Homo sapiens: one gene and its partners. The protein of the gene in region 4 interacts with the protein of the main gene of each other region in a biochemical or structural test. Each region holds a gene or a part of one and is shown on either strand. Other genes may lie near its edges.

What was found.
Region 1: the proteins of RGS12 (region 4) and PALS2 interact in a test that uses a peptide from one of them, tested with the Homo sapiens proteins (one large-scale study listed by IntAct).
Region 2: the proteins of RGS12 (region 4) and PDZRN3 interact in a test that uses a peptide from one of them, tested with the Homo sapiens proteins (one large-scale study listed by IntAct).
Region 3: the proteins of RGS12 (region 4) and HTRA4 interact in a test that uses a peptide from one of them, tested with the Homo sapiens proteins (one large-scale study listed by IntAct).
Region 5: the proteins of RGS12 (region 4) and HTRA1 interact in a test that uses a peptide from one of them, tested with the Homo sapiens proteins (one large-scale study listed by IntAct).
Region 6: the proteins of RGS12 (region 4) and FRMPD1 interact in a test that uses a peptide from one of them, tested with the Homo sapiens proteins (one large-scale study listed by IntAct).
Region 7: the proteins of RGS12 (region 4) and SLC15A5 interact in a test that uses a peptide from one of them, tested with the Homo sapiens proteins (one large-scale study listed by IntAct).

Annotation. Positions count from the first base shown.
Region 1 is NC_000007.14:24,646,452-24,649,951, reverse strand, and holds part of PALS2 (protein PALS2), read right to left. Parts: intron 341-3,500; coding exon 188-340; intron 1-187.
Region 2 is NC_000003.12:73,614,942-73,618,441, forward strand, and holds part of PDZRN3 (E3 ubiquitin-protein ligase PDZRN3), read right to left. Parts: intron 1-3,500. UniProt on the Homo sapiens protein: E3 ubiquitin-protein ligase. Plays an important role in regulating the surface level of MUSK on myotubes. Mediates the ubiquitination of MUSK, promoting its endocytosis and lysosomal degradation. Might contribute to terminal myogenic differentiation.
Region 3 is NC_000008.11:38,980,728-38,984,227, reverse strand, and holds part of HTRA4 (serine protease HTRA4 precursor), read right to left. Parts: intron 2,576-3,500; coding exon 2,461-2,575; intron 1,731-2,460; coding exon 1,673-1,730; intron 1,635-1,672; coding exon of another isoform or gene 1,606-1,634; exon of another isoform or gene 1,283-1,605; intron 1,276-1,282; coding exon 1,180-1,275; intron 1-1,179. UniProt on the Homo sapiens protein: Serine protease.
Region 4 is NC_000004.12:3,317,021-3,320,520, reverse strand, and holds part of RGS12 (regulator of G-protein signaling 12), read right to left. Parts: coding exon 2,470-3,500; intron 1-2,469. UniProt on the Homo sapiens protein: Regulates G protein-coupled receptor signaling cascades. Inhibits signal transduction by increasing the GTPase activity of G protein alpha subunits, thereby driving them into their inactive GDP-bound form.
Region 5 is NC_000010.11:122,468,053-122,471,552, reverse strand, and holds part of HTRA1 (serine protease HTRA1 precursor), read right to left. Parts: intron 1-3,500. UniProt on the Homo sapiens protein: Serine protease with a variety of targets, including extracellular matrix proteins such as fibronectin. HTRA1-generated fibronectin fragments further induce synovial cells to up-regulate MMP1 and MMP3 production.
Region 6 is NC_000009.12:37,702,954-37,706,453, reverse strand, and holds part of FRMPD1 (FERM and PDZ domain-containing protein 1), read right to left. Parts: intron 1-3,500. UniProt on the Homo sapiens protein: Stabilizes membrane-bound GPSM1, and thereby promotes its interaction with GNAI1.
Region 7 is NC_000012.12:16,274,886-16,279,157, forward strand, and holds the start of SLC15A5 (solute carrier family 15 member 5), read right to left. Parts: upstream 2,801-4,272; coding exon 2,440-2,800; intron 1,641-2,439; exon of another isoform or gene 1,308-1,640; intron 967-1,307; exon of another isoform or gene 1-966. UniProt on the Homo sapiens protein: Proton oligopeptide cotransporter.

The DNA of each region.
Region 1 (3,500 bases), on a different chromosome or scaffold from region 4:
ATTTTAGTTAAATTTTGCAGGCTAAACCAAGTTGAGAAAGCATCAGCTGTGTCTTTATACACAGGCCAAACAAGAATACAGTTTTCATAACATTATGAAAAGGAAAAAAAATGAAACAGAGTAGTGACTGAACCACAAATTATGTCATATTTCAGATTTAATAGGGTACTGATTTATCTGTACTCACCAGTGGTTCCCCAGCTCTTTTGTGAATACCAAGAATACGAATGGCATCTACTGGTAATAACTGATTATTGATAGAAGAATTATTCATTTCTGGGCTTGATGGAGGTGAATCATAACACTTTGATGCCACAATATCATGGGCCTCCAACAGTGACTATAAGGAGTCAAAATAGCCTGTGGTTATTTATGATATGTGGATGAAATTTGTTACTAAAAGTACTTTGTTATTTCATTATTCCAATGGAGTACTAAAAATTTCCAAGGCACATGGTATTAAATTCCCAAATATCAGGTTGATCAAATAAATATATAATTTTTAAGAGATATAAAAATATATAGTTTTATTATCATCAAACAATATTATATTCCTTCTTTGAGATATGAAGAGATATTAGTGATGCTTTTTAAAAACTGGCAAGTTCACTGGAAACTGAACCTAGGTTTCCAGTCTGGTGCAATGAAGGTACTGGGTTTTATTGCCACCACTGTCATCATATCATTCAATATTTACCATCAATCCTATTTACTAAAATACCATAAAAATTCAAATTCAAATGACATTTTTACCTAACATTGCTATGTTAGTAATATGATATACTTTTTATATGTAGAAAACGTCTGTTAAAAGATGTCCAACAGAAAATGGATAAATATTAGCATCTTATATCAGTGACAAAAAATTTTATATTACCAATAAAGGTTTTAGTTTATAAAAGGAACATTTTTTGAGCAAAAAAACAAGTCAGTAATAGTCCCGAATATAACGTATTTTTTTTACCTCCTATACTTACTATGTATGTGCTACCAGCATGGGTGGTTTTGATCTAGCTTTCTAGGAATTGCTTTTTTTTTTTCTTTTTTGAGACAGAGTCTCACTCTGTCACCTAGGCTGGAGTGCAGTGGTGTGATCTCGGCTCACTGCAACCCCCACTTCCTGGGTTCAAGTGATTCTCCTGCCTCAGCCTCCCAAGTAGCTGGGACTACAGGCGCATGCCACCATGCCCAGCTAATTTTTTGTATTTTTAGTAGAGACGGGGTTTCACCGTGTTAGCTAGGATGGTCTCGATCTCCTGACCTCATGATCCGCCCACCTCGGCCTCCCAAGGAATTTCTTAATTAATACTAAAATGTTAAATTTTTTTTCATTTCTTATCCTAAAAGAATAATTTTTAGGGCAGGCGCGGTGGCTCATGCCTGTAATACCAGCAGTTTGGGAGGCCGAGGCAGGTGGATCATGTGAGGTCAGGAGTTCAAGACTAGCCTGGCCAACATGGCAACACTCTGTCTCTACTAAAAACACAAAAAATTAGCTGGGCGTGGTGGTGTGTGCCTGTAATCCCAGCTACTCGGGAGGCTGAGGCAGGAGAACTGCTTGAACCCGGGAGGCAGAGGTTGCAGTGAGCCGAGATTGCACCATTGTACTCCAGCCTGGGCAACAAGAGTGAAACTCTGTCTCAAAAAAAAAAAAAAAAAAAAGAATAATTTTTACTGCAACTGTGCATATTCAACATAAAGATAAGTTAACATTCTTGAGGGGCTGGATAGAATTCAAGTTCAAAAACAATAAATCAAAATAGAAAGAAGCAAATATTAACAGGTTCGGGAAAAAAGCAATCAGGATAATTGGTAATTTCTGGTCATTTCATAAAACAATTTGTGAAACACTGGAGAAAAAAATTCAATAAAACAACTCATAAATCCATATGTAAGGATTCTTCCTATAAATGCTGGAAGTTGCTAACCTGCGCTGCTTAGTTTTCCACCCTATATCCTCCTTTGGCAGTTTCATTTACTCCTGTGACTTGAGCCACTACTTATGCATTGACAACTCTTAAATTTCTATCTCTAGTTCAGAAATCTCATGTGCTTCAGATTTTTATAGTAAAAATTTGCCCACAACTCGTCAAAGTCACGGCAATTTGAAAATCAAAAGTAGGGATTGTAAAAGATTAAAACACTGAATAAAAAATCCATAGATCCACAATGCTATTTAAAAAAAGACTGAAAAAACTCATTTGTTACCACTTGAAACTGCAATTTTAAACAGCTCTTCACTTTGAAACTTAGTAAAAGGAAGGATCAAGTACATTCCTGCCTCTTCAGTAGAAATGCACTAAGCAGCCCAGTTGATGAGAAGCTCTACATTATGGAAGAATACTAGCTAATAATGTAGAACAGAAAAACGTCATTTTGCAACCTCTAATGAAAATTCTGATTTACAACCCAAAAGCTAGAATAAGATGAGAAATAACAAAAATTAGAGCTGAGCTGAAGAAAACTGAGACACAAAAAACCTTCCAAAAGATCAATGAGGCTGGGCATGATATGATGGCTCACGCCTGTAATCCCAGCACTTTGGGAGGCCGAGGTGGGCAGATCACCTGAGGTCAGGAGTTCAAGACCAGCCTGGCCAACATAGTGAAACACTGTCTCTACTAAAAATACAAAAATTAGCTGGGTGTCACGGCACGTGACTGCCTAGTCCCAGCTACTTGGGAGGCTGAGGCAGGAGAATTGCTTGAACCTGGGAGGTGGAGGCTGCAGAGAACCGAGATCGTGCCACTGCACTCCAGCCTGGACAACACAGTGACTCCATCTCAAAAAAAAAAAAAAATTAATTAAATTAAATTAAAACAACAACAACAACAACAAAAAATCAGAATCCAGGAGTTGGGTTTTTGAAAAAATTAATAGACAAGCCACTAGCTAGACTAATAAAGAAGAAAAGAGAGGAGAGCCAAATAAACACAATTAGAAATGATGAAGGGAATGTTACTACTGAACCCACAGAAATAAAAACAACCATGAGAAACTACTATGAACACTTCCATGCACACAAACCAGAAAACCTAGAAGAGAGATAAATTCCTAGACATATACAACCTCCGAAGACTGAGCCAGGAATAAATTGATTCCCTGCATAGACCAATAACAACCTCCGAAATTGAATCAGTAATAAATAGTTTATCAACCAAAAAAAGCCTGGGACCTGATGGATTCACAGCTGAATGCTATCAGATGTACAAATAAGAGATGGTACCATTCCTACAGAAAAGCTATTCCAAAAAACTGAGGAGGAACTCCTCCCCAACTAATTCTATGAGGGCAGCCTCATCTTTATATCAAAACCTGGCAGAAACACAACAGAAAAAGAAAACTTTAGGCCAATATCCTTGACAAACATTAATGTCAAAATCCTCAACAAAATACTTGCAAACCAAATCAATCGGCACATCAAAAAGCTAATCCACCATGATCAAGTAGGCTTCATCCCCAGAATGCAAGGTCTGTTCAACATTTGCAAATCAATAAAT
Region 2 (3,500 bases), on a different chromosome or scaffold from region 4:
CTAAGACTGAAGGTAGTCATAAGGACGGTGCTTGAAATTAAGTTGAAATTGGATGAGACACTCAACAAAAGTATTAATAGGATGTTTCTGTCATCAGAAAAAGGTGTAGAGAGAATGAAGGGAGACAAAGGGCATGGGGGAACAGGTAGAAAAAAAAACAAGAGCTTTTCCAGAGTCATAATATCTGCACAATAGTTCACATGGTCCTAAGCCAAACGAGATATTTTTGAAAACTAATATGAGAAGACGTTTCAGTACTTTCCTCGTTTAAAAAAGTCTGCTACTATATTTACACAACCTGAAAAAATCCATAAATGTCTAATTTCTTATTTCCACGAGCTTGATTTCAAATTTTCTCTCTCATTTTTGTCACTGACTCATCTGCTTTTCTGGTGAACAACCACAAGCAATGCTTCACCAAAAATGACACCAACAAACCTTTAAGGTGTTACAGCATCTTAACACTTCCACTTACTTATGGGGTGTGCTACGATCTAAATGTTTATGTGCCCTCAAAATTCATATGTTGAAATCCTAATCCCCAAAGTGATGGTATTAGCAGGTGGGGCCTTTGGGACGTGATTAGGGATTAGTGCCCTTATAAAGGGGCCCAAGAGAGAAACCCTCACCCTTTCTACTATGTGAGCACAACAACAGAAAGACAGCCATCTGTGAACCAGTAAGTGGGTCCTCACCAGACCCTGAATCTGCTAGCACCTTGATCTAGGGGTTCCTAGCCTCCAAAATTACGAGAAATAAATTTCTGTTGTTTATAAGCTATCCAATTTCTGGTATTTTTGTTACAGCAGCCTAAATGCACTAAGACAGAGTGGTTTCTGGTATTTCTGTTACAGCAGCCTAAATGGCCTAAGACAGAGTGGTTTTCAAATGTATACATCCAATTACCAACCAGAAGCATTTTCTTCCCTAAATAAAGAAAAAAGTGCTATAGTTTGGATGACTGTCCCCCCAAATCTCTGTTGATATCTAATTCCAACATTGGAGGTGGGGTCTAATGGGAGGTGTTTGGGTTATGGGGGTGGACACCTCATGAAGAGATTAATGCTGTCCCAGGGTGGTGGTGGGCAGAGAGTGAGCTCTGCTCTATTAGTTCTTGCAAGAGCTGGTTGTTAAAAGAGCCTGGAACTTCTCTCCTCTCTCTCTCCATTGCCTCCTTTCTCTCCATGTAATCTCTGCACATGCAGGCTAGTCTTTGCCTTCTGCCATGATCGGAAGCAGCCTGAGGCCCTCATCAGAAACTGAGCAGACGCCGGTGCCATGTTTCTTGTGCAACCTGCAGGACCATGAGCCAAACAAACCTCTTTCTTTACAAATCACCCAGCCTCAGGTATTTCTTCATGTCAACACAAATAGACTAAGATAGAAAGCAAGGCTACTCATCTAAAAAACCATAAGTGCACTTGCTTACATGAAGGTAGGAGGTTTTTCTGGCCAGTCTCTCCATAGCTTTGTTAATTTGGGTGGGAAAAACATAAACAACTCTGTAACCCATATGTTATTCATAAGCTTTAGCCCTCCACCTTTACATCTTAGCCCAAATGAACTTGAATATCCCTCTTTCACACATTTCCACCACTGCAAAACAGACAGAGGATAGAAATCCAGAGAATGGGTTACTCAGGGGCAGCAGGAGGCTTACAATGAAACCAAATTATTGAGTAACAATCTCTTTTCTTCTAGATAACAACTGCTTTAAATTCCTAAACTTTCTTCAGTGATTTATTTGAAAAAATGTTAAAATCCTACAGGTGTCCAGCACTTAATAGACAGTCAAGAAATGCTTGATAAGACTTACTGTGCCCTTATGTACATCATCTCATTTCATCTTAATAACAACCCTAACAACAGGCATATTATGATCCCATTTTAGAGGTGAGGCAATTAAGGCTTGAAGGTTAGAAGAGCCTCCCAGGGGCCCTCAACAACAGGGCAAAGAGAACACATGAACCCGAATATTGCTGATCCCAGGATATGGATACTAACCACACGCAATACACTAGCTCTATTCAGGGCACCTTGGAGTCAGCCTGTGGACCCAACGCCTGCATCTAACCTTCACCCACGATCTGATGGGACTTCATCCCTCACCTATCCAAACACAGCAAAGACACGGGGCACCTAAAAACAGCTTTTAGCAAAATACTAGGGGTGATCTCCTGCCCAGGACTCTTCTCTGCACACACACTGCTGATGCCAGGGGAAAAGCTCATCACTGCCCTTCCTGGGGATGGGGTGGCTGCAAGGCCTGCAACATACAAAGATTACGCGGTGCCTCTGCTCTTTAAATTCCCTGTAAATATATGGATGGAATGAGTGAGAAAGATGGCTGCTCAGGTCCATCTGGTAGTTATTTTCTTTACAAGAGTAATCATTATGTTATACCACTTCCCTTTCTTATTGTAACAGGCTTATTAGGACACTATTAGTCAAGGGGAGACAGAGGCTAACCCATGGCATAAAAGCTTGGGTGAGCAAAGAATAGTAAGACTTGTGCTTTCAAAGGCATATGTGGGTGTCTGATTGATCCCCTGGGTTAAAGCTGCTCAGTTTTACCTTTCTATCCAATGGTGCCTACCACAGGGCCTGGCACTAGGGGTATGAGAATGTGAGGAGCTAAACTGCAGAATACATTTGGAAGAACTTCACTTCATTCCTACTGTTAACCACTCTTAAAATTACCAGGATAAAAATTAAAGAGCTGTTCTCATATTCCATCCAGGACATCATCTCTTTTTTGTCTAAATCTATTTTTTTTTTTAACAGGGTCTCACTCTGTTGCCCAGGCTGGAGTGCACTGGCACGATCTGGTCTTGGCTCGCAGCAACCTCTGCCTCCAGAGTTCAAGCAATTCTCCTGCCTCAGCCTCCCCAGTAGCTGGGACTACAGGTGTGCACCAGCACACCTGGCTAATTTTTGTATTTTTAGCAGAGACTGGGTTTCACCATGTTGGCCAGACTGATCTCAAACTCCTGACCTCAAGTGATCTTTCCGGCTAGGCCTCCCAAACTGCTGAGATTACAGGCGTGAGCCACCATGCCCAGCCTAAATCTCTTTCACAGCCAGGATCTGTTTTGTTTTGTACTCCATGTGCTCTACACTGGACCTATGTAAATGGGAACATGGTATGGGATGAAAACATTTCATGGACCAGAAGCCAACAGGCAAACTAACATGAGCCAGTGGAGGACACTTGGCAAGTTATTTAACTTTCTGAGCTTCTGTTTTTTCATCTGTAAAATGGAAGGAAAGAGTCATGGGTAAGAGCACCGACCTTGCAGGGTCTTTCTGAGGATGAAATAAAATAATGCATGTACACCTCCAATCCAAACAGTACTTGGCATACATAATAATGGTGCTTTGAAAGCCTGTGTGAGACTTCAGAGAAGGGCACCGCCCCAGGAAAAAATTCTTTTCTTATTTTGGTAACAGTGTGAGCTCGGAGATGGGCCACACTGGGTTCAAATCCCAGCTCTACATTT
Region 3 (3,500 bases), on a different chromosome or scaffold from region 4:
GGAGTTCGAGACCAGCCTGGCCAACATGGTGAAACCCTGTCTCTACTAAAAATACAACAATTAACCAAGCGTGGTGGCGGGTGCCTGTAATCCCAGCTACTCGGGAGGCTGAGGCAGGAGAATTGCTTGAACCTGAGAGGTGGAGGTTGCAGTGAGCCAAGATTGCACCACTGCACTGCAGCCTGGGCAACGAGTGAGACTCCATCTCAAAAGAAAAAAAAACTATTAATGAATAATTAATAGTTACTAATACCTAATAGGTGTTAATCACTTAATAGTTATTAAGTAATAACTATTAATGTTGAAAGGGTAGATTTGGGAATTCCTAGCCAAATTAATTTAAACTTATGCTATTAACTCATAACATGAGCTCTTCTTAGACTATAGAGAACCACCTCCCTCCCAAAATACAAAAAAAGCCTTTATAAGTACCCAAGTCTGAATCAGCACTGTCCTGTAGACAATAATGCAAGCCACATACATAATTTTAAATTTTCTTGTAGCCACATTTTTAAAAATTTTTAAATAGATGAATTTAATTTAATAATATATCTTATTTAATACAATATATCCAAATATTATCATTTAACGTGATATTTTTAAAATAGTTATTTTACACTCTGTTTCCTATGTCTTTGAAATCCACTTGAAATAACACACCCCCCCAATATACTACTATATAATGATAATATTTTTTTTTTTGAGGTGGAGTCTTGCTCTGTCGCCCAGACTGGAGTACAGTGGCGTGATCTCAGCTCACTGCAACCTCTGCCTCCCATGTTCAAGCGATTCTCCTGCCTCAGCCTCCCAAGTAACTGCAATTACAGGCGCACCCACTAATTTTTGTATTTTTAGTAGAGACGGGGTTTCAGTATGTTGGCCATGCTGGTCTCAAACTCCTGACCTCAGGTGATCCACCCACCCTGGCCTTCCAAAGTGCTGGGATTACAGGCATGAGCCACTGCACCTGGCCTGGGTTTTTTAATTTAAATTAAACTTACTTTAATTCAAAATTCAGTTCCTCAGTCACACTGGCCACATTTCATGTGCTCAGTACATACTACATGTAAGTAGTGGCCACTGTATTGGACAGATCAAGTCTGGATCCCCCATGCATTTTACCATGGCACACATTTAGAAAAAGCAAAGGTAGATGACAAAGGCCTTCACTTCTCTTACCTTTGAGCAGCTGTTCCTTCAACCACTTTACATACATAAACCCCAGAACTCACATCAGGGAAATCTGGATAATGCATTTTCAATTCTTCACTAAGGCTAAGAGAAGTGAGAAGATTAGGAAACAATGAATTAGTCTCCTGAGCCCTGGTAAAAGCCTGAAATTCTTAGTAGGTACTCTGTTCTGCTCAAGGTTCACAAGGGCCGAGGAAGATTCCATCAAGCTAATCACAGTCATTCTCCTCTCAGTTCGGGCTGAGCCTCTATCCCAAAGCCTAGAACCACTGGACATTATAAAATACAGCCACAATGAAATAAACTATGTATAGTTAGTGCTGATGCAGGCAGAGGCAGATACATACCCTGAGACAGATAGGGCCTATGGTCACAAGAGTACCTGGCTGTGGTCCAAGTGGCTCAGCTTTTCTGTTAAGACTGTGCAGCTATGGTTTTTGCCTCTGAAAAACAACCCAGACATATTCAAACACATGCTTACGGCACAGTGAGGGACAGCATTTGCAGACCCAGATATTTCTTATTTGAAAACGCCTTTCCTGGAAAGGAAAGTTATGATGTGTTACAACAAAACCTCTTTCCTGTTAGCGCAGCTTAAAAGACACCCATGTCCCAGGATCTCTTTGCCATCACAGCTGTCCTTTCAGGTTACCTGGATGAAACACAGGCTTCAGAGAACCTTTGTCATTAGCACTTACACTCCTCCCACCCACCTCCCACCTCCAGCCCCTGGGTTTCATTTCCACATTAGCTCAATCCAAATACTTCTGGGTACAACTCATGCTTGGTTTGTGCCTAGTCCCCCAATATTGCTGCTCAAATCACCATTATAGGAGCTGAGTACAAATGAGTGACCCAGTAGTCTACAGGATTCAAATGGCTGTCTCCGGGCCAGGCATGGTGGTTCATGCCTGTAATCCCAGCACTTTGGGAGGCCGAGGCAAGCGGATCACTGGAGGTCAGGAGTTCAAGACCAGCCTGGCCAACATAGTGAAACCCCGTCTCTACTGAAAATACGAAAATGAGCTGGGCGTGGCAGTGGGTGCCTGTAGTCCCAGCTACTCGGAAGGCTGAGGCAGGAGAATCGCTTGAACCCAGGAGGCAGAGGTTGCAGTAAACCAAGATCACGCCACTGCACTCCAACCTGGATGACGAGCAAAATTCTGTCTCAAAAACAAAAACAAAAAAATTGCTGTCACCACAAAAGATTGAGTGTTCCTGAAAAGCACAAGACGAAACCAAAAAAAAAAAAATCCCAACTTGCTTTACCTTTCATCTGGTGCTCATGGTATTCTGCCAAGAACTGCCTAACTCGATCTGAAGGAATTGCAAAGGAGATTCCATCAGTCACCCTCAATGAATTGACGCCAATCACATCACCATCCTGGCAAGGGAGGGGACATCATTCAGTCATGAAGTTTTGCAAACTGATGAGTGCAAGACCAGAACAAGCAGAAGAAGGAGTGAAGCTAGTTACTTAGGGTCAGAAAACAGGGCCGAGAGGAACTTTGTACTTCAAAAGAGAGCAACGGATGTTCCTTTATAGGGCAAATAGTGTGATGGGACAGCAAAGGGTAACTGCACATGCGCAGAAGTTACCTTCTTTTCATGGCCAAAGGATCAAGGATGCTGAGGACTTTTTAAAATCTTGAGCTCATGGCTGGGCAGAGTGGCTCACGCCTGTAATCCCAGCACTTTGGGAGGCCGAGGCGGGCGGATCACGAGGTCAGGAGATCGAGACCATCCTGGCTAACATGGTGAAACCCCATCTCTACTAAAAATATAAAAAATTAGCCGGGCCTGGTGGCGGGTGCCTGTAGTCCCAGCTACTCGGGAGGCTGAGGCAGGAGAATGGCGTGAACCCGGGAGGCGGAGCTTGCAGTGAGCCGAGATCGCGCCACTGCACTCCGGCCTGGGCGACCTAGCGAGACTCCGTCTCAAAAAAAAAAAAAAAAAAAAAAAAAAAAAAAAAACTTAAGCTCATTTTTTTCCTTTAGTAAGTTACATTGACTTTAAAAGTGAGCCACAGTTTGTATTTTGACAAAGGTAGAAGGACAAGGAGCATTTGCCTTTTTATTATTTAAAAGTAAAAATAAACATGGAAAAGGTAAAAAGCTGTGGGATTGTCAGTAACACTGCACTGAGAATTAGCAAAATTGACCTTAGGGAACAAAGCTCTGCTAAGCTAAAGGTATGAGGTAGAAAATATTTTCCTCTTTATGTACCTCATCTTCCTTTAGCCTTTTAGGTAATGGGAAAGGATAAAAAAGAGATTTCTTTTTTTTTTTCTTTTCTTTTTGAGACGGAGT
Region 4 (3,500 bases):
GACTGTGAGCAAGTCACCTGACAGCCAAACCTCAATCGCCTGGCCTGATGGCCTCAGGATTCCTATCAAGGTAAGGATGCACTCTGCAAAGCAGTGACCGCCACACCGTTATTTCCAACCCTGAGGACATGCTAGCTCCCCTTCTGCTCTGCTCCAGTGTGGGTGGGAACAGCCAGGACCCTCATCTTCACTGCAAAGAAGCCCAAGGCTGGCATCACAACCCCACCTATTCCCCCATGTCACCCGCCCCAAGGAGGAGTCCATTCACTGGTGGGATGGGGACGACAGCATTATCTGTCTCTCAGGTCCGCTGAGGACCATAAGCACCACTGCCAATTATCTAAAATGGCATCATACTCCCCACTGTCCAGGTCACTTTGAATTTCAAGGAGAAAGCAGGTGAAGGTGCCCTGTAATCCACAAAGAACCACATAAACACCAGTGTCAACCTTCACTACACCACAGCAGTGGAGAAAACACAGTTTTAAATATGTACTCAAAGAGATGAGGAATCTCCTGATTCCAAAGAACATTTTCACCACTTTCCAGGGCCCTTCACCTCCCATCCCTGCCCAATACAGGCAGCCCACACTGAGGCCAGCTCCCTGGGAGTGGCCCTGCCCCACCACCTACAGGCTCCACGGAGAAGTGAGGTGAGGCCCAGGGCGGGCAGGAGGGCACCTCCCTGAGAATCCAGACCAGGGCTCAGATCAAGAGACAAGGAAAGACAGCAGCAGCACGTGCAGCTGCAGAACGACTCCTCTAAGGAGGCTGAGGCCAGGCGCGTGTGGCTCATGCCTGTAATCCCAGCACTCTGGGAGGCTGAGGCAGAAGGATCGCTTGAGCTCAGGAATTCAAGACCAGCCTGGGCAAGATGGCAAAATCCCATCTTTACAAAAAATATAAAAATTAGCCAGGCATGGTAGCAAGTGCCTGTAGTCCCAGCTACTCAGTAGTCCCAGCTACTCAGGAGGCTGAGGTGGGAGGATCACTTGAGCCCAGGAGCAGGGGCTGCAGTGAGCTATGATAGAGCCACTGCACTTGAGCCTGGACAACAGAGCCAGACCCTGTCCCCAAAAATAAAGAGGATGTTGAAAATCCATATGATTACAAGTGTTTTAAAAAAAAAAATTCTATGCTTACATACATCAAAATGTTATCAGTGATCATTTTGAGGAGATAAAACGAGAAATCTGTTCTTCCTCCATTTTTTAAATTTTATTTTATTTTAGAGCCAGAGTCTCGCTCTGTCACCCAGGCTAGAGTGCAGTGGCTGCAACACAGCTCACGGCAGTCTTGAACTCCTGGGCTCAAGCGAGCTTCCTGCCTCAGCCTCCAAAGCACTCAGTTACAGGCGTGTGCCACGGCAGCCGGCTCCTTCCTTGCCTTTAAATGCTCTCAGGTGCTACATTTCATCATGGAAAACACTAGGGGAGGGGGAATCAAGTAGAAATATTCATCAAACACGGCCTTTCCTACTCCCCGGCCCTGCCTACCCAGCCAGCAGCCTTAGAGGGTCTTCTTAGGATGGTCTCAGGATGTGAACAAACACTAAAAAGGTGTCTTTACATCGTAAACAGCCGGAGTAGTTTCTCTGAAACAAAGGGAGCTAAGTGCCCACCCCCATCACCTGTCACAAGGGCCCTGGCTCCAAACACAGCACAGCCCCACACGGCAGCGCCGCCTCTGGCTGGAGGAAGTCCTTCCAGAGGGTTCCCTGCACCCAACCGCACAGGCACAGCCCCGCACACTCCCACACTGGCAGCACCGCCTCCTGCTGGACAAAGTCCCTTCCAGAGGGTTCCCAGCTTTGCTCATTTACTCTTTCCTGCTCCAAACTTAGCTCCTAAAGGCAGGGCCCCCAAAGGGATGCTGATGGGTCCAGGTCTTCAAGGCAGCACTACACACCTTGAGGTACCCCTCAGTGAGCAGGCGGCGTGGGGCTCCCCAGGCCCACTGCGGAGTCCAGCTGGTGTTTTACACAACAGGATATTCCCCATGGAGGAAACAGCACGAGGAACCAGCTTTCAGTGCTTCAAGAATATTCTCGCCTCAAGAGGGGTGTGGGACACTGGGATGAAGATTCTGGGGTCAGACCTAAAATGGGCTTCAAGGAGCCACAGGGACAGAGCTAGGGAGGAGCAGGAAGGGGAGGAAGGGCCTTATCCTGAGCTCCAAGACAACAACTTCCCTCTCGCCACCACCAGTCCTGCCCAGATGTCCTGCCCAGGACCAGCCATCAGAGCCAGAACCAGAACCAAGGACTCGAACAGGGCAGGGGGCAAGAGGTCCCAGCAAGACACAGTCCGCAGCCCACAGGCAACGCAGACACCCTGTGATGGCCACAGAGGCCACAGGGCCAGCAGGAGGAAGCCAGGACTGTGCAAGCTGGTGACTGGGAGTCACCTCCCCGTGACTGCTAAGTGAGGAGGCCGGGCCTCCGCGCTGAGTGGCTCCTGGCAGGCTTACCTTTTTATCTTCCTTAGTCTTTCGAACATTTCGATGGGGACCAAAAATGCTTTGCATTCCAAAGGCCTTCCTGGACCACTCCCTCTTCGGGGCATTCAGCGGGGGCTGCGCGAAGCTGCCCTCCACCCTGTAGCGGTCTGCGGGGATCTTGCTCATAGGAGGGGGCAGTGTGCCGCAGTTGATGCTGGACCAGCCATCGGTGGAATCTGTGTAAGAGTCCTGGTCGCTGGTGTGTCCGCACTGCCACTCCCGGAGCACGTGGACCGGGAGCCAGCGCTGGTTGAAACCACAGCCAGCACCCACGGTGCCCCTCTTGGAAGGGGGGACTGAGCTCCTCAAGGAAGCTGGGGGCACCTCCACAGGAGAGGCTGGCCCTAGGTGCTTGTTTAGGTCCCAGAACCTGTCAGTCTGATGAGCGGCCTCAAATGGGGGGCTCCCTTCGGGGTCCGGACAGAAGGGCCCAGTCCAGGGAGCACCCCAGGGCTGGGCACCCCTCCCACCCACACCGTCCCACGCGCTGCCTCCGGGGCCGTGTCTGCTCGAGCTCCCACCCAGGTCCACCACAAGGACCCGGTTGCTCTTCTCCTCCTGGTGGAAGTTCCCAATGCCGCTGTCACTGTTGCTGCTGGTGCTGTTGTTCTGGTGGGCATCGGCGTCCCCGTCCAGAAAGGCGCGGGCCCGCATGCCCTCAATCAGCTCACCCATGTCTCGGTACAGGACAGAGATGAACTGCAGGACGGGGAGGGAGGACGCCGGGAATTCCAGACAGCCATTGGTGTCTGGGTCGGCCGTGCACTCAAACCCAAACCGCCGAGCAATGCCTTGGTGGATCTTGTGATTAAACAAGTCTGGGTCCACCATGAACACGTGGCAGGAAGTCCGCAGGGCGCCCTCCTCCTCCTGGGCCAGGCTCCCGTCGTCATTCGTCTGCATGGTAACCAACCCGAAAAATCGCCGGTCGTCCGGGCACACGGCGCTGAAGGCCAGCTTCTCGGCCGGGTACTCGGCCACGACTCCAGCCTTGTCAGTGC
Region 5 (3,500 bases), on a different chromosome or scaffold from region 4:
GGAAGCCACCAGTGTCTTTACAGGTAAAGTGGTGTCCTTCATCCACAAGATGCATGCAAACAGGGAGTTGATGTGGTCAGAGATGGGTGTGAAAGGTCGGAGCAGAATGATATTTTTCAGAGGACAGAAGGACTATATGTTTGGCCAATGATGAGAATTCCATGGGAACAGACTGTAAATGACAAGTGTCACAGAATCCCACAGACAGAACGATATCCAGGCACATGGTCCTTCCCAGATGCTCTCAAATCCTCACTCTTCCTCCTGTGCGTCTTCTGCTATTATCAGACTTTTCCTACTGGGTTTCATCCAGTGGGGCTAAACCACACTGGGCTATATTTTTCAGAGCCACAAATGCTGGTGGAGAAAGGTCAGACTGGGATCTGAAGAACCTCAGCTCAGGCCATTTCCTGACCAGCAAACATTAAACAGAAAGTCGGCCTGAGAAGAACACAGGATGCAGGCCACCCCAGGAGGAGCGTGTGCTCTCCACGGTGCAGGCAGAGACGGCTGTTTGCTTGGTATAATGATTGGGATGCTGATGTTCTGGACCAACGCATCTGCCCTTGGACATGATGGTAGTGAACCCTGCATTTGGCCTTCCTGAAACAGAGGGTCAAGTTCAGTCACTTTGGCCAAGAGCTATCATGTCTCAGTAGGACAAGAGAACATGCCCAGAGGAGACCCATGCTTTGACACCCAGGAGGCATTTTACTATTTCCATCCTTCTGGCTTCACTATTCTTGGTGTTGGCTCTATCAGGAGTCCTGGAAGAGTCTGGAATTGCCAACTAGAGGTCCTAATCTCTTACAGCTTCAATGCTTTAGGACTCCTAAAGCACTGAAGCTTTAGGAGTTGACAAAGCTCCTTCATATTCCTTGTATCATTGGACTTCAGTGCTTTAGGATTCCTAGCACTGAAGCATTGGGAGTTGATAAAACTCCTTCATATTCCTTATATCACTGGACTTCAATGCTTTAGGATTCCTAGCATTGAAGCTTTAGGAGTTGACAAAGCTCCTTCATATTCCTTATATCATTGGACTTTAATGCTTTAGGATTCCTAGCACTGAAGCATTAGGAATTGACAAAACTCCTTCATATTCCTTATATCTTTGGATTTCAATGCTTTAGGATTCCTAGCACTGAAGCTTTAGGAGTTGACGAAGCTCCTCCATACCCCTTATGCCACTGGACTTTCACAGTATCCTGCTGATGTCTCCTAGGCAGCATCATTGTCCCCCTGTTGTAGATGAGGAAACTGAGGCAGAAGGGAGTCATCCCAAAGGCCCAAATGGGGCTAGGACCCAGGTTTTCTAACTCTAGTGGTTCATCATGGAGACCGCAATTCAGTGTTTCAGAATAGACTCAGGAGACGTCAACACTTCTCTTTCAGGAATTGATAGATCAGTAGGCAGAAAATCAGGAAGGATACAGTTGACCTGAACCGCACTATCAATCCACTAGACCTAAGTGACATTTATAGAACACTCCATTCAACAATGACAGAACACACATTCCTCTCAAGCACACAGGGAACACTCACCAAGACAGACCACATTCTAGACCAGAAAATACACCCTAACAAACGTAATAGAATAGAAATCATACAAAATATATTCTCAGCCCACAATAGAATTAAACTAGAAATTAATAACAGAAAGATAGCTGGAAACACCCACCAAATATTTGATGAATAAACAAAACATTTCTAAATAACACTTGACTTAAAGAAATCTGAAGAATAGTTTGGGAGTGAAACAGACATGGGCTCAAATCCTGGCTCTGCCTCCTTGCACTGGCTGGCCTTGGACAAGTTACAGCTAACCTCTAGGAGCCTCTTCTGTGGCCTCAGCTAGGAAGCAAGGATAATGCCCTGCCTCTCTGGGTGGCTACAAGGTAAGAACAAAGCAAGGCCCATAACACAATGAGCACAGTGCCCAGCTCCCACAGAGCACCCAGTGGCAGTGGCTCTTTGGGTCACTGTTCTGTTTGATGACATTTCCCACTGCCCTAACTGTCCTGGAGAATACAATATTCCTGTATAGCTCACTCTGTGCCACAGAAAAGCAGATGTGACCGCTGAACATTGAGGCTTCCCTCCCCTATGTCTAGCTGGCAAGATTGCCCATCTGCCTGGGCAATCCCAACTGTGTCCATCCGTCTCCATCAAGTGGTGACTGCACTTAGAAAACTGGCACCAAAGAGACAGCTCTTCTTAGTCACAGGATATGAGATGACTCATGTGTTGGAAGATCGGGTAAAATCTTGCCCAAGACTATGTGAGAAGGAATTCTACGGCGAATCTCATCAAACTTTGAGAAAAAAAAACAGCTCATCACAGAGATAGGCCTACCATCTTTATTGCACAACTAATGAAAAAGATGTTCCTGAGGTTTGAAAATATTGCACAAGCCTCTGACTCATTAGGACTGAGGTTGTTCAATTTGGAAATTATCAGAAACTCCAGCCACAACAATATGCCCTCGGAGACTTTTGTGTGCACAAGGAGACATAATTATCCTGTGGCGAGGGACCAGCTGCTGTCACGGGATGCTGCGGAGGATTGTTTTTATGAAACGTGCTTATTCGACAATTTGTCCTGGAATCTAAAATAATAGGGTATCCATGGACTCCCAAATTTGCCTTTTTTTCCTTCCTTAAGATGTGACAAATCTTTCCTTGTGAGGAATTCCCAGTGCATAGAAACCAAACCAAGCATCATTCAAGAAGGTGCCAGGGCTTCTATAAACTGCCATCTCCTGGGTGTCACAAGCTCCAGGGAGAGTTAACGAGATGACATCTGTAAAATCCCAGGCAGTCCAGACATGCAGCTCTTAATTCAAGAGAAGCCACACACTGGTCACATGATATAGGCAACAACTGGGACCTCAAAGGGTGACAGGCAAAGTGACTTTGGATACCTCTGCCCAGAGAACCTTTTCCAACATATTAGATGGCAAATTCCGAGTCAGCTCCCGGACAGAAGTCTCACATCACCCTCCTTCTCTGTGAAGATTTCCTAACCCACCCACCCACCTCATCCCCAGGGAGACAAGAGTGTCCCAGCACTCCTCCCACACAGCTGACTCCTTTGTCAGTGCCTTGAAGATGATGATGATGATGATGATGATGATGATGATGATGATGACAATGACAACACGCTAATATTGCCTGAGTTCTAGCAATGCATCAGGCACAGTGCTTTGCGTTTCATATAAGGAGGTCCTTCCATTCTGCAATGCCCTAAGAGCTACGTATGTATCTGCTATTACTTCTCTTATCTTACTGATGGGGAAACTGAGACTTAGAGATGAAGTCACCCAAGAAACACCACACATCCAGAAAATGGCAATCCGACTTCAGAAGCCCAGCCCTTAAGCTGAGCATCATACTATCTACCACGAGTACCTTGAGATCAGGGGCCACCAGCCCTTACCTCTGAGTCCCCATACCTGATACACTTCTGAGCACACAGTAGGTGTTAAATAAATGCTCTGA
Region 6 (3,500 bases), on a different chromosome or scaffold from region 4:
GCTGTCTTGGGACTCTGCGGTTAAGGTCTATCATTTATTCTCATCCATTTACCAAACACTTTCAGGAACCCTGCCTAATGCAATAGGCCCTCACTTATCTGAAAATCATCTCCCTCTCATTTATAATGATCTCCAGTTTCAACAAGGATCCGGAAATATGAAAAACTGTCTCACAGAGCCAAAATGTAAGTGACAAGCACAAGTCCAAAGTCTCGTGTACACTATCCACCAAGGATCCCCCCCAGGCCCTGACTTAGAGCAAATTTAGGATCTGTATGAATAGATGACCCAGCCCACACAACCTAGAAGCAGAGGGAGTCTTTCTTCTAGGCCAGCATGCAGGTAATACTGAGCTGGAGCAGCAGAGAGACCTAATGAGAGGGAAGAAACAGAAAACTGAAAATTCACACTAAATAAAGCCCATAGCTCTTCCTGATTTTTTTTCAATCTTTTATTTATTTATTTATTTATTTATTTATTTATTTATTTATTTTGAGGGAGGGTTTTACTCTGTCACTCAGGCTAGAGTGCAGTGGCATGATCTCAGCTCACTGGTTCAAGCGGTTCTCATGCCTCAGCCTCTTGAGTAGCTGGGACTACAGGCTCGTGCTACCACACCCGGTTAATTTTTTGTATTTTTAGTAGGGATGGGGTTTCTCCATGTTGTCCAGGCTGGTCTCAATCTTCTGAGCTCAAGTGATCTGCCTCTCAGCCACCCAAAGTGCTGGGATTACAGGCAGGAGCCACCGCACCCAGCCTATTCCTGATTTTGTAAAAAACATTTAGAGCTATAAAAAGGTTTTTCTAAATGCAATAAATAACACTCTATACTAAAAGTCAAAAATCAACATTTGACATTACAGGTGCAGTGCCTCATGCCTGTAATCCCAGCACTTAGGGAAGCTGAGGCTAGCTAATCACTTGAGTCCCAGAGCTCAAGACCAGCCTGGGCAACATGGCAATACCCTGTCTCTATTAAAAATACAAAAAAATAGCAGGACTTGGTGGTGTACACCTGTGGTACCAGCTACTCAAGAGGCTGAGGTTGCAGTGAGCTGAGATCATGCCACTGCTCTCCAGCCTGGGTGACAGAGCGAGACTATCTCAAAAACAAACAAACAAACAATTTGGTGTTTTATTTAATGTAGTAGGATAAATGCTAATAATAGTTATCAGGGAAGGAAAAATGACAAGAGGAATAATGAGCACAGGAATGGAAAAGTACCACCTTATTATTTTTTTTTTGTTTTTTAGCAGATGACATTCACACAGAAAATGATGAACAAAGAAAATTTTTAGTGCCAGAAGATAAGTTTAGTGGAGATGCAGGATAAAAACACAAAACACAGCCACAAAAAGGATCAAACAATTCATTAAAAGCAGATTAGCTGAATGTACATTCGGTGTTAGGCATTCTTAATGAGTGAATGCTAAATATCTAGAAAATGCCAAGAAAGGATTCAAGTAACAAAACTAGTGATGTGTACTAATGTAATTCAGGGGAAGAAGGATTTATTTAAAGAAAATAATATAACTTTCCTTAAAGCAATAAAGGAAAACACAATAATTGGGTTAAAGTTATGCTGGGTTCCTGGATGGAAACACTAAGTATCAAAAAAAAAAAAAGTTCTAAATTAAATAGAGATTTAATGTAATATAAATAAAAAATTCTTCCAGATTAAAAAACAACTTGACAAATTGATGGTAATCACAGCAATAACGACAATAATAATTAATAACATTTATGAATACTAACTATATTTTAGGGAGTGATTTAACATTATATATATATATATATCTCACTCAACCCTCAAACTTTTGAGGTGGGTACAATTATTATTCCTGTTTTATAGGTGAAAAGACTAAATCTTGCTCTGAGAGATTTTAACTTGCTTAAAGTCATACAGCTGGGAAGCAGGTTTCAAATTGGGGCTACTTTCTTCAATAGGCACACTAGCACTGCTTCTAGAGCAGTGCGGTCCAAATGAAATATACACACCGCATACGTAAATTTAAGTTTTCTAATAGCTACATAAAAACAGGAAAAAAATAAGTGAAATAAATTTTAATAACATATATTTTATTTAACTCAATATATCCAAAATAGTATCATTTCAACTCGTAGTTAATACAAAAAATTATTGATGAGAGATTTTGCATTCTTTCATATTAAGTCTTCAAAATCCAGGGTCTATTTTACACTTACAGCGCGTATCAATTTGAACTCTAAATTTCTATCAGAAATACTTAGATTTCAGAAAAGTTACAGTTGAAAAGTAAGCACTCCTTTCAGACAAAGGCAATAATCAAAACTGCATAGTGTGGCTTTCACCAATGAAACTGAATAGAAATTCTAGAAAGTCCTTTAAGTGTCTGGAAGTTTCTTAAAAGACTAAACATGGTGTACAACATGATCCAGCAATTGCACTCCTGGGTATGTACCGGAGAGAAATGAAAATAAATGTCTACACAAAAACTTGCACATGAATATTTATAGCAGCATTTTCTGTAAATGTCCAAAAGTGGAAACAACTCGAATGTCCATCAACTAATGACATGGATAAATAAAATACCGTATTCCAGAACAGAATATTTGGCAATAAAAAGGAATGAAACATGGATGAATCTGGCTAAGTGAAAGCCAGTCACAAATGACCACATATTGTATGATTCCATTAACATGAAATATCTAGAACAGACTAATCTATAGAGACAGAAAGTAGATTAGGGGTTGTCCAAGGCTTCAGGGAGGGAGGTTTGGGAGGTTTGGGAGTCACTGCTAATAGGTATAGGTTTCCTTTGTGGGGGATGAAAACCTTCCAAAATGGACTTGTGACAGTTGCAGATCTGTGAATACACTAAGAACCATTGAATTGTACACTTCAAATGGGGGAATTGTATGGTATGTAAATTATCTATCAATAAAGCAGCTGAAAATAAGTAAATTTAAAAAAATCCTGAAGTGGGGAAAGCTTATAATACAAATATATGAAGAATGGGCATAAATACACATAGTAGATACCCACATTTCACATGCTCAAAGCAAGTGAATTGACAACTCTCACATGAAGAAAGCAAGCTGGAAATTAACACAGAAAATGTACAACCTTATCAAAGAAGCACAACTGAAAGGGCTATGGAGTACTATTATGTGTCATACCAAATATGAATAAAAATAATAAGGCCCAACAGGTACTAGTCCTGAGATTAAAGAATGACAATACAAACTGGCAATTCAATCTCTCTAGGAAATCATTGGTGAACCTGTACCATGAATTTAAATTTTAAATTTGATCTTCTGTTACCATTTTGACCGGTATTCCTTGAACTGATGACCACAAAGGAAAAAATATCATATTATTTATCCTGGACCATGAGTTCCTAGAAGACAAGGGTGGTACCCATTCATCTCCATGTCTCCCATGCCTAGTAAAGTTCTAGAACAGAGTATGAGTTCAATAAACCCTGGCTCTTAAGTATTCAAAAATATCAATCTCAGC
Region 7 (4,272 bases), on a different chromosome or scaffold from region 4:
TCTGTTGTAAAATGATGCAGTAAAGAGACAAAACAATGACATATATGAAGAAAAGTCTCCTCTGTGATGTGTGCAATTGTGTATCTCATCATCAGTATGCCTGCATTTAGTAGCTCTGTAGAAGCACCATGATGTGTCATACCCCCTGCCAGGTGATGGGGGTCCGCTGAAGGAAATGTTGAGTCCATCAGAGAAGTCAGCCATGCAGGTGGACAATTATATTATAAAGTGATGGATGCAATCGTATAAGTATTATATGGGTGTGGTTGAACACAGAGAAGCTAGCAACAAACACTATTTGGTTCTTGAAAGAATAGCAGGAGTTTTCCAATCATGGATAAGGGATGGAAAGATAAGGGAAGGTGACAATTTCAGAAAGAGAGAAGAGCATGTACAAGATTAGAAAACTAGGGAAGGAGGCCAGGAGAAGTTAGCAAGGTTGGGGTTGCGTGTTGAACAACAAGTCTAGAGAGGTGAACTTAGAATAGGTTGGTAAGGTTGTTGTATGCTAAATTAATAAGTTTGGATTTCATTTTTTAGATAATAGAAGCAATATAGAGATTTATTTGTTCAGGAAGTCAGTGTTGTTGGTAGAATGGAGTACAAGCTGGAGACTGACTGAGAACTGGCAGCCGAGTAAGTAGGCCATTGGAATGGTTAAAAAGAAGAAAGCTGCATTTTTTCAGCTAGGGTAGTAGCAATTCAGACAGAAGACCTTTCTTATATATAACCTCTGAAATTTAGTGACAGTTGGAATTTGATGGCAGCTGTAAGTGGAGGGCAACAAAGAAATAACTTTTAGTAAAAAAATGAATGGATGTAGAGTTGACTTAAGTCTTTTGTTTGCCAGATTCCAAAGTTGGGATTTCCATCCTGTCTGATGACTGACCTCAGAATTTAGACTGATAGAAATTACCATGTTAAACAAGAAGTCAACAAATGCTACTGGTGTGGCCTGTTACCAAGGTAAGCAGAGTAAGTTAGTCTGGGATTTGCTTAAATGTCTTCTTATCAGAAAACTTTTTCTCGGTACCAAGTAGCAGCCTCATCACCATCCATTCCATCCTGTCCCCCTACCCAGCTTTATTTTTCCATCCTAACTCATTGCCACATGACATCATATCTATTTCCTCTTTTATTTTCTCTCTCCCTGCACCAAAAAGTCAACTTTAGCAGGAACAGACGACTTTCTTCTCTATTGCATTTCCAGACCCAGAATAATGTCTGGTACAGAGTAGTCAATAAGAAATATTTGTTGAATGTTGAGTGATTATTTGCCATGCAGTGACCTAGTTTTTATTCCACAGAACTAAAGCTGTGAAGTTTCCAGGTTTGACTTAAACTCCAATGGATTCTCTGAATGGTAATTTACCACCTGCCTGAGATTGTGTGATATGTTGAGTACCTGATATCTATCCATCTCTTTCTCATCTGTCCCCCTACCAATACTCATTTCAGCTGCACTTCTCATTATTGGTGAACAGCATGCTATATTCCCAAGTTGCTCAGATCAGAAACTTGGAGCTAATTTTTGACCCCCATCACATTTGTACCTTTATTTAGTTGCCTTACAGCTTTTCACTTGTTCTCTCCTGAATTGGCACTTTATTGCTTAAACCATCATCCTGAGATTTTCTGATCTCTCTCTATTTAATTCCTCACTGTGGTTGTCCATCCTGTATTGCAGAATAGCATTTCTCAAATGTTGTTTTCATGATATTTTCAGAGACTTCTTGTTGCTTAAGAAGAATAACTTGAACTTTTCAGTTTAAAATTCTAGTCTGTTCTTCAAGTTGCTCTCTATTTCTTATTAAACTATCTTGATATTTTCCCAGCATTTCTCACAATCGGTCCCAAACTTTTGCAGATATATATTAGTATATATGTAAAGATGCACACTATAGTGTCTAATTTACTCATTTCTAAAGCATATAATCATAGTTAAAAATATAGAAATCATGCCATCATATGCAATCTTAATTACTATATGACTAATTAAAAGACCACCTTTGGATAAAAACATTTCTCAATTATTTTACATGAACTTCAAAAACCTTTTTTAGCACATTTCATCTTAGTTGTGAAGCAAATACATTTCACATTTCTGAGGGAATTTGTCATGAATTTAGGCTTGAGGTAAAAAGGTTTTGGGAAAGGAGGGCATTCTAAGGAGTAAGATAGATATGTAAAGGAGTAATTATTATAAAATATAAATGCAATGATATAGGCACAAAACATTCTCTAACACACACACACACACACACAGACTTACTAGCATTCTTCAAATAGTACAAAGAATGAAATACATTGAACCCACATTCTTACTTCATTTATCACATTTTATGCTAAGAGCAGAGTGAAAATAATATAAACTAAAAATTCTAACAAAAATCTACTTAATTAAGTCACAAAACAATCCAGTCAGCAGAGGACACTCACCTAGAAAATGTAGAAACAAGCAAATGTACACCAGTTTGTTTCTTCCTAAATAGACATCAGTGAGCCATCTGACAAACACAGGGGTAAGTATTGAAGTTCCAATAAAACACAAGTTTAAGATGGCTGCTTGGCAATTGTGATAGCCAAGCTTGATAGTGCAAAAGGGGATCATGTTGCAGACGACTTCAAAGAACGTGAACCTCTCACACAGCTCCACCAGAAGCAAGCAGATTCCAACCTGAATTTTTTTCACAGAGTGTGAGGAACACAAATCGCCAATATGTCTTACAGTTTTCTCCTTCTCAATGCTGTGATATAAGTGTACTTTCTCATCAGTTATGGTAAAGCCTGTAACAGACATGACTACCCTCCTTGAACAAAACTTATGTTAGTGGTTTGAACTTGGTGATATTTTGAGCCCCATCCCTCTGATGAAAAAAATAAGAACGTTGCTTTGAATTTCACATCTCCATGCTAGAATTTCATAAGGTTTGTTTTTTGCACATGGACGTTGTTCCTTTTGATGATCCAAGAGCATGAGTATTTAAATGTTCACAGTAGCTCAGTGTACCCAAATCTGATTTGTTTGCTTAATTACTTAGCGGCTAAATTAGGATCGTCCTCCAAAATTGTATTGAATTACATGAATCCAGTTGCAAACATGTGGAAACTCATCTGCCTCATACTGATAAAGGTTTAAATATTGAGGCAGAAGAAGCAGGTTTTCGGGAGAATTTGAGCACTAGATCAAGAAATAATTTGAGTCTAATAATTTCTGATACTTTAATTAAACAAGCCAGAACAGTACCAAGAGATAAAGCGCAAAAGGAAATCTGTTTTGAAGGGCACGATATCTTATCATTATTACATTTCTTGTTATTTTTGGTTGGAATTCTGATAAGAAACTTAATTAGGTAACAAAAGTGCTAGTACATTTAGGTAACAAGCAGAGTTTACAAGAAAGTAATTTAAGTGCACTAATGAAAGGAGAAAATATTAAACGAAACCCTGCTTCCTTTTAGTTGACCCCATGCTTGTAGAACAGCCTCTCAGAGGAAATCAGAATCAAAAGGTGCTATTTAACTCCTTTATTATTAATCAGTAGTCAGGGATACAGCAACCAGCCTACACAGGCTTTGGGGAATATTGGATCTGGTATCACCCTGACCCTTCAGCTGGGTGAATGGGTGTTAGCATTCTATTTTGGAAAGCAGGAGGGCCAATTAAGCTAAAAAAGCAGCAGTGAAAGAGAACACCTTAACATTTAGTGGCTTAGCTGCAAGGACATAGGAAGAAAAGGGACCGGAACTATTGGGTCAAAGTCATAATAATTCAACACTTGAGTATAGGAATGTTATTTTCATGCTGTAGTCAAAACCTAAAGACCAATAGGGACTTTTGACTCTGGTTATCATCTTTTGGTTGTGAGAGACTGGGGGCAAAATACTCTGTTTTGACCCCTTCTAATAGCCTCATTGTAATGGTAGCTATTTGTCTCTGCTCAGCATTGCTACTTTGGTAACGATGCCCTAAATTTCCTTTGTGTAAATTGATCATGCAATTTATGATCCAAACTTGGACAGTTTTGTGCAGGTGAAAAGTGATGCTATTTATGGTTACTCCCCAAAAAAAAAAAACAGTTATAAACTGGGACTGTCCAGGGCAACACTCTAACATGTGTTCACCCTACCTTTGGAGAATGACTCCTATCTATTACCTGAGATCATGGTGGGGCTGTTGATCAGCATATGCCTTTTCTTCTAACCAAGTGGGTCAACACCCGGTCTAAGATAGTCCTTTTACTTTTCTCCTGTGGAATTTTAATCTTGAGTG